Linked DNA regions of Homo sapiens: region 1 is linked to region 2. A link means that fine-mapping ties the variant in region 2 to the expression of a gene that starts in the linked region. Tissue or cell type: whole blood. Region 2 holds a variant in brackets; the other region holds the start of a gene. All regions are shown on one strand. Distances are between the middles of the regions. Region 1 holds the start of C2CD5 (C2 calcium dependent domain containing 5). Region 2 overlaps ETNK1-DT (ETNK1 divergent transcript).

Region 1 (4,395 bases), 78 kb after region 2:
AAAGCCATAATTTTCTCATTTATAAAATGAAGGCTGATAATTCCTACCTCAGGATTTTAGGGAGCCTTAACAGCTGTGAAACGCTGAATTCAGTAGCTGGTGTGCGGCAAACCATCAATACACGTTAATTCTTGTTATTGATAATTTAAAATGCAAAAAGAGTGTCAGGGTATGAAGCTAAACAAGGTAATCAGGAGTCACATCATGGTAGATTTGTCAGAAAGTTAGCACTGTTCCCAGCATTAATGAAAACAAACGAGAACAATTATTAGGAAACAGTTCAACTGAAGTCAGGCTTAAATCTACTAAAAATAGTTTTCAGGAAGCATCTTAATTATAATCTCTTGTTGATGAAGCCTAAGGCAACAAGTACGTACAAGTACCTCAAAGTCTACTAATTAGGAGGCTGAGATTGCTAACCTCTAATTGTGCAATTTGCAACTTTTTACATTTTGGAACACAATGCATTATTTTCCATTAATATTGGTGCTAAACTTCAATTTTCTAATATTTTTTCTTTATACATTTCATATTTTAAAAAATGAGTTGGTAATACGGTAATACTTCGATTTCACCACAAAAACGACTTCAACTCTACCACCCAAAACAACAAAAAACACTGATCATGCCGGGCAAGATGGCTCATGCCTGTAATCCCACCACTTTGTGAGGTCAAGGCAGGAGGATGGCTTAAACCAGGATTGAGACCAGCCTGGGCAATACAGGGAGACTCCATCTCTTCAAAAAATTTAAAAAACTAGCGGTGCATGGTGGTATGTGCTTGTAGTCCCAGGAACTTGGGGGGCTGAGGTGGGAGGATCGCTTGGCCCAGAAGATTGAGGCTGTAGTGAGCTATGATCATGTCACTGCACTCCAGTGTGGGACACAGAGTGAGTCCCTGTCTCTAAATAAATAAATAAATAAAAAACGTTGATCACATAGTGTAGCCAACCTTCAGAATTCTGGCAAGGGTATTTTAAGGGCAGAGTCAGACTCCAGAAAAAGCTGCAGGTGGACCTAAGGAAATTCGCATGGGATCTATGACCCCTATTCCTTTGACATAGTTTGAATTGATAAAAGTTTCTCTAGTCCAAAAAGCAAGCGATTTTTTTAGATTTTTATTTTGAGGAAGTCGTTTTCTCTGTAGGAGTTCAATTTCTCACTTATGTGAACAATATTCCTGCCATAGAAGGAATTTTTGTCATGAAAAGATAATTCGGGATCACTACTGTTTGGAGTATTTACTCTATTGAGTATTTTCGAAGTTAAAAAGATCATACGGATATCTTCACTTAGGAATGAAATGTTACAATCTTTGAGCCGGCATGAACTCTGATTTTGTTGATACTGGGTATACTGTCAATGCTGATTTTGATATTTGGTAAGGACTGATTTATTTACATCTTGTGTGTGCCTCAATTTCCCTAATATGGTCTGAGCCTGTAGATAACACCTTACTTTATTTATAGTTGGGTCAATTCTTCAAGATGTTTAACGCTCTCCATGTTTATTTCTTGTGGTTGACTATACTTTCCATGGTAGGAAGTCCTGAACTTCTGCTACTACTGTAGGTCTTATCTTTAGGCTTGTGGATGCTTAATAAGAACACTGAGATGATCTAAGAGTGCAGGACATTTAATTAAAAAAAAATTTTTTTTAAGAGACAGAGTTTTGCTCTGTTGCCCAGGTTGGGGTGCAGTGGTGAGATGGCAGCTCACTGCAGCCTCAAACTCCTGGGCTCAAGCAATTCTCCCAGATTCTCCCACCTCAGCTTCCTAGGTAGCTGAGACCACAGACGAGCCACCGGCCCAGCTAATTTTTGCATTTCTTGTAAAGAAGGGGTCTTACTGTGTTGCCTCGTCTCCATGAGGCTGGTCTCGAACTCCTGGACTCAATCGATCCTCCCACCTCAGCCTCCCACAGTGCTGGGATTACAAATCTGAGCCACCACACCTACCAGCAGAAACTTTTTTTCAAGAGGAGACTTTGGATTTCAAGGTGACCTCCCCCACCCCGCCCACAGTAATATCTGTGACCCAGTGCACAACACAAGTGCCTATGACTGAATAAAATATTTCACTAAATATTTATTTCACTATTCGAGATGTGCCTGGTATCTCTATTTCTTTCTTTCTTTTTTTTCTTTTTTTGGAGACAGAGGAGTGATCTCGGCTCACTGCAACCTCCGCCTCGCAGGTTCAAGCGATTTTCCTGCCTCAGCCTCCTGAGTAGCTGGAATTAGAGGCGCTCGCCACGACGCCCAGCTAATTTTTGTATTTTTAGTAGAGACGGGGTTTCGCCATGTTGTCCAGGCTGGTCTTGAACTCCTGACCTCAGGTGATCCGCCCGCCTCGGCCACCCAAAGTGCTGGGATTACAGACGTGAGCCACTGTGCCTGGCCATCTAACTCTATTTCACAGAAAACTGGAACCACCACACGCACCTGTACCCCTTCCAAGTAGAAACCAGCTAATTTGGTTTTACGAATCACTAAAGGCCGACTGAAAACGCTCTTCTAGCAGTCTTCGCTGCTACTCCATCTATCACAGCCCATCCGAAAAGCGGCGGTAGCAGCTGGGAAGGCCGCGGCCGGAGGCTGTCACAGAGCAGCACTCGCGCTTCGGCCCGCAAGATGGAGCGTTTCCCTCCAGGGAAGCAGCGCCGCACCTATCCACAGCCCCCACTCGGTGGATGATGCAGGACTCGGCCCATTTCCCTGCCCTCCAGCTTTCTCAACGTCAGCCCCGCCCCCTTATCTTTCCTCGGCGAGTTTAGTTTCGCCCCGCCAAGTGGGCAGAGCGCCGAACGATCGATGCTTTCTTCCGCGCCCCGAGAGCCGCCATTTTTGAGAGCGGGGGAGGAGAGACAAGCAGGGGCGGCAGAGGCTCAACGGGATGCTGACTGGGTTTTGCTTTTCGTCCCAGCCTTGTGGGGCCGGGACGGAAGAACCCATCAAAGCCCTTCCTCCCGCCGCCTCTCCGGAATGAGGTCTCAGCACCCGCGCGGGACAGCACCCTTCCTCCTGCGACAGTGAGTGGCGACCCGTGGCGCGACTGCCGGGCGCCCGCGCGCGCCCCCGCGCGCTCCTTCGCTGTCAGTTACCCCGCGCGCCTCCGCCCCTCTCCCGCCGGCCCCGCGCTCGGCGCAGACTCGTTTGTTTGTTTCTGCAGGAGCCCAAGAAGAGGCCGAAACCGAGACCATGCCAGGGAAGCTGAAGGTGAAAATCGTGGCCGGGCGCCATTTGCCAGTGATGGACCGTGCTAGTGACCTGACTGATGCCTTCGTGGAGGTTGGTGCAGGGTCCTGCCCCTCAAAACACAGGGAGCGCCAAGCCCTGTGAAGGATCTACCCACCTCGCCCCCAGCCCCTCAGCCTATTCCCCCCTCGACTGCCCTCCCTTCGGCCGTGGTTGTCCAGCTCTCCCACGAGGGATGACCGCCGAGACCTCAGTGTGTGCGATGGGTGCACGGCTTGCAGGCGTCCGCGGCACAGTCCGCTGCGCGGGGAGGCTTGTACTGTTGTGCATGCGGGGGTGACCCTGATGTCAGGACTCATTAACAGGCCACCTGCCACTCAGGAGATCCCAAGGCGTGGCCGCGCAGCCACCGACACACTCACACACATACACACACACACACACAAATGCCGGAATGACTCTGATGTCAGGACTCATTAACAGGCCACCTGCCACTCAGGAGATCCCAAGGTGTGGCCCCGCAGCCACTGAAACACACACACACACAGGCACACACACACCCTTGGAAGGGGTGGCCAGAGTGCTGGACATCATGTTTAAGAAGGTGCATGAAGCCCTTTATGGGCACTTGGAGTCCCACAGTGCGAGGAAATCCACTCTCATGCCTAACATTTTGTGAATCTGCCATGCACGTTCTAAAACACAACTGCAACACTTCCTGCTCTTGTATAGGCTGGTAGGTCTGATGAGGTGTTTCAGGGTAATTTAGCGCCTTGAGGTAGGAAGTCATTTAATTGCCATGGACTTAAATTGCAAAATTGCTTTTTAAGTCTAATGATTAGTTTAAAAGTCATGCAAATTAGTAAAGGCCTACGGCCGGAAGGTAATAACCCAGAGTCTGAAAGAAGCCAAGTAAAGATTGTAATAAAAATTGGCGTGATGAGCCAGAGCATTAGAGCAGCAATCATTTGGGCTATTAGTGCTTAGAATTGATGGATAGATATATCATAATATATAGCTCGATTTCATCTCAATATTCCTGATGTTTCCTAAATGTTCTCTAACCGAATAATTACAGTTCACTGCCTCCCCTGCCCATTGTCATGGTGATTCTTAATCACTTCATTTGAGAAAGTTCTTGAGTGCTCTTGTGCCAGATGTTAGGTGATAGGAATCCACAAATAACTAAAACATAGTGT
Region 2 (4,395 bases):
CTGAATTTTTCTGGGAAGCAAGGGACACGTTCTAAAATAACCCCAGGATCACTCTCCGAACTTGGCCTGAGTCTAGGCAAGCAGTGTTACTCGGTCGCCTTGATCTTGGAGCTGCTGTGTACTGGGGACCTCATACTAGTTGGGTTAACTATATTCCCATTAGCAGTACGCGGGATCGCAGTACTCGGGACAAGCTGAGTTCAGGTATTTGGGTAAGACAACTGCAACACTTCAGAGGTTATTTGTGGAGTAAGATGTTCGACCATACAGTGAATAATTCGAAGCTAGGGAGAACAGATTAGAGTCTGGTATGAAGAAGAAAGGGAAGGAAAGGAATAGTTTTGAAGCTCAGCGCTAGAACGACTCGATGTCCATGCCAGGGTACCCCGAGTGGGCCTTGAAATCTTGCGTCTCAGTGCCTTACAGGGAATGGTAGAAACTGGAAAATCTACAAGTAAAGTATTGGGACCTCCTAATTTTCCTTTTAGATGGAGGAAAACGGGCTGGGATTCCCTGCAGCACTTAGCACACGGTGAATACGTTTGTTAGTAGTAAATAAAACCCTTAACTGGACTGAGTTTAATTAACATTCAAAATGTTTAATTACTTCACTAGCATTAAGTTTACATCCTGATTGTTCAGAAAGAACCTACTTACCTTTGTAATTAACAAAATAATTACTTCACCGATAACGGTAAACTTCCTAAACTAAAAAGAGGGGTGGAAATGGAGCTTTATAATACAGCAAAGAAGTTGATTTAACATTTTTCAAATTTAGTGGTTTTTTTGTTTGTTTTTTGTTTCTGTTTTTTTTTGTTTTGTTTTTGAGACGGAGCCTCACTCTGTCGCCCAGGCTGGAGTGCAATGGCGCGATCTTGGCCCACTGCAACCTCCGCCTCCCGGGTTTAAGGGATTCTCCTGCTTCAGCCTCTCGAGTAGCTGGGATTACCGGCGCGTGCCACCACGCCCAGCAAATTTTTGTATCTTTAGTAGAGATGGGTTTCACCATGTTGGCCAGGCTGGTCTCGAACTCCTGACCTCAGGTGATCCACCCACCTCGGCCTCGCAAAGTGCTGGGATTACAGGCGTGAGCCACCGCGCCCTGCCAGATTTAGGCATAATTTTCTACAAGAAACATTAGAGTGTGTGTTCCTTCCACTTTGGGGAGAAATCATAAATATACTACTACTTTCACATTTCAGATAGTATCTCTTGTATTTTTGTATAAATTGTATTTTTTATTAAGCAGTTGACATTTTAAGAATTTTAAAACTATGTAACTGTAAAACAATTTAATTGAAAATTATGTTGCAAACTGCACTAGTTTGTAATGGTAAATAAGAGTCCATTAACAAGTAGAAGAAAAGAAAAAAAAACTATTAGGTACCTGAGAACAAAAGTAACCGAAAATGTACAGGATCCATGGATAAAATTAATGGAGAAATGAACCATATTCATAAATGAGAAAAGATTAATGTAAAGGCCTCAATTTTCCCTGAACTAATCAGTACATATAATGCAATTCCAGTTAAAATCTCAAAAGGGTTTTTTTACTGAACTTGTTAAAATGACATTGAAATTCATATCAAAACTTAAGGTCCAAGAAAAGCGCTGTAATTGGGGAGAGGAGGATAGGGACAGGTAAGATCAGGGAATATATTGGGAGGACCAACCCTACCAGGATGTATTATATATTGGTTTAGGTATGGGCAAATAAACTACTAGAACATAATAAAGTCCCAGAACAAAACCTACACACATATGAGAACTTTGTATATAACAAAAGTAGCATTAAAAATTAGTGAGAAAGTCCAGACTGATCAATGAACCGTAGTGATACAATTGCTTTTTGTATGAGAAAAAAATTTTGATCCCTCCCTCTTATTATGCATAAAAATTAATTTGGGGAAGATTAGAAACCTAAATGTTAAAAGCAAAACTTTAAAAATGTGCAAGAAATATCAGTTCTTATCAACCTGATCTACTGATTCAATTCTAATCACCTCAAGTTATGTTGTGGATATCAGCAAACCAGTTCTAATGTTTACATGCAAAGCCACAAGAGCCAGAATAGCCAATACAATATTAAAGAAAAACAAAGTGAGAAAACAGACAGACTTGAAGACAGTATAGCTGGGTGCAGTGGCTCATGCCTGTAATCCCAGCACTTTGGGAAGCTGAGGCAGGAGGTTCGCTTGAGCCCAGGAGTTTAAGGCCAGCCTGGGCAACACAGTGAGACCTCATCTCTCCAAAAAAAAA[AT/T]TAGCCAGGTGTGGTGGTGCACACCTGTAGTCACAGCTACTCCGAGGCTGAGACAGGAGGATTGCCTGAGCCCAAGAGATTGAGGCTGCAGTGAGCCATGATCAAGTTACTGCACTCAAGCTTGGGCAACAGAATTAGACCTTGCCTAAAAAAAGAAAAAAAAATAGTATATGTTCCAATAATCAAGACAGTGTAGTATTGAAGCCAAGGCGAGTGAATCACTTGGGGTCAGTAGTTTGAGACCAGCCTGGCCAACATGGTGAAACCCTGTTTCTACTAAAAATATAAAAATCAGCTGGGCGTGGTGGCAGGCACCTGTAATCCCAGCTACTCGGGAGGCTGAGGCCGGAGAATCACTTGAACCTGGGAGGCGGAGGTTGCAATGAACCAAGATCACACTACTGCACTTCAGCCTGGGTAATAGAGTGAGACTCTGTCTCAAAACCAAAAAAAAAAGACAGTGTAGTACAGTGTAGTATTCTCAAAAGAATAGAGAAATAGATCTATGGAACAAAATAGAGTCCAGAAATAGATCCACACAAATATAGTCAACTAATATTTAATATTTAACAAAGGAAAAAGGCAATTCAAATTTTCAATAAATGGTGCTGGAACAACTGGAGATACACTTGCAAAAAAAAAAAAAAAAAAGAAGAAGAAGAATCCAGACACAGATCTTACACCTTTCACAAAAAGTAATTTAAAATGGATCATAGACATAAATATAAAACACAAAACTATACAATTCTTAGAAAGCAACATAACAGAACATCTAGGTGACTCTGGGTTTGGCAGATACTTTTCAGATGCAGCACCAAAAGCACAACCCATGAAAGAAAACTGTTAAGTTGTACTTCATTAAAATTAAAAACTTTTGCTCTGCAAAAGATAGTTAAGATAATGTAAAGACAAGCCACAGACTGGAAAAAATGTTTGCAAAACATATTCAATAGAAGACTTCTATTCAAACTATACAGAGAACTCCTTAAACTTAACAATAGAAAAACCCAATTTTAAAATGGGCAAATGATCGGAACAGATATCTCATCAAGAAGATATACAGATGGCACAAAAGCATGTGAAAACATATTCAACATCTAAACAATGAGATACCATCACATATCTATTGGAACAGCTGAAATCCAAAACACAACCAGCCAAATGCTATGAAGATGTGAGGAGGAACTATCATCACTGGTAGGATGCAAAATGGTACAGCCACTTTGGAAGACAGTCTGGCAGATTCTTACAGAGTTAAACATAGCCTTACCATACAATCTAGCAATCATGTTCCTTGGTATCTACCCAGATGACTTGAAAACTTACATCCACACAGAAACTTGCACACTAATGTTTCTAGCACCTTTATTCATAACTGTCAAAAATTGGAAGCAACCAAGAAAATAGGTGAATGTACAATAAAAACTGCTACATCCATAAAATGGAACATTATTGAATGATGAAAAGAAATGAAGGACCAAGTCACAAGAAGGGAAGAATGGAGCATAGGAGATTTTTAGGGCAATGAAACTATTCTGTATGATATTATAATGGTGGATACATGACATTATAAATTGGTCAAAACTCACGGAACTATGCAATACAAAGAGTGAACCTTAATATAAACTATGGACTTTAGTTCATATTTGTATTTTTGTCAATCCACATACTGCCTTGCAGTAGTAGCTAATAAATGTAAATTAATAAAAAAGTCAGAAAATATAGGATCAGATCTCTATGATTGCAAGTTAAAGAAGGATTCCTAAACAGACTCATAAAGCACACACTATGAGGGAAAAGGACTGATAAATTTGAAAACATTAAAATTTGAAACCTCATGACCAAAAATACCATGAAGATAAATGACAAGCCATAAAAAGATCAGATATTTGCAATGTGTATGATCAAAAAGTATTTATACTCAGGATACTACTAATAAATAAGAAAGTTAAACCACCCAGTAGAATAACTGGCAAACAAATAGCAGTTTGAAGAAAAGGAAACCCAAATAGCCAATAAACTTTTGAAACTATACCTCCCTAATTGTAATGTCTAATAATTAAGATAATATAAATTAAAATAATGAGATACCATTTCACACCATTAGATTGGAAAAAATTTTGAAGTCTGATAAT

The links.
Region 1: C2CD5 starts here. The variant in region 2 is fine-mapped to the expression of C2CD5 in whole blood (INTERVAL, PIP above 0.99).

What each region holds. Positions count from the first base shown.
Region 1 is chr12:22,542,955-22,547,349 of GRCh38, reverse strand. It overlaps C2CD5 (C2 calcium dependent domain containing 5), which reads left to right and starts at 2,808. Exons shown (of 27, transcript NM_001286176.2): 1 at 2,808-3,030; 2 at 3,171-3,289. The coding sequence starts at 3,200. RefSeq lists enhancers at 2,678-2,907, 4,048-4,395 and a silencer at 3,048-3,167.
Region 2 is chr12:22,620,490-22,624,884 of GRCh38, reverse strand. It overlaps ETNK1-DT (ETNK1 divergent transcript), which reads left to right. Exons shown (of 4, transcript NR_135030.1): 1 at 1-212. Among named protein-coding and RNA genes, the nearest start is that of ETNK1-DT, 2.4 kb to the left of the region's middle. RefSeq lists an enhancer at 1-69. The variant AT/T (reference allele first, on the strand shown) is at 2,260.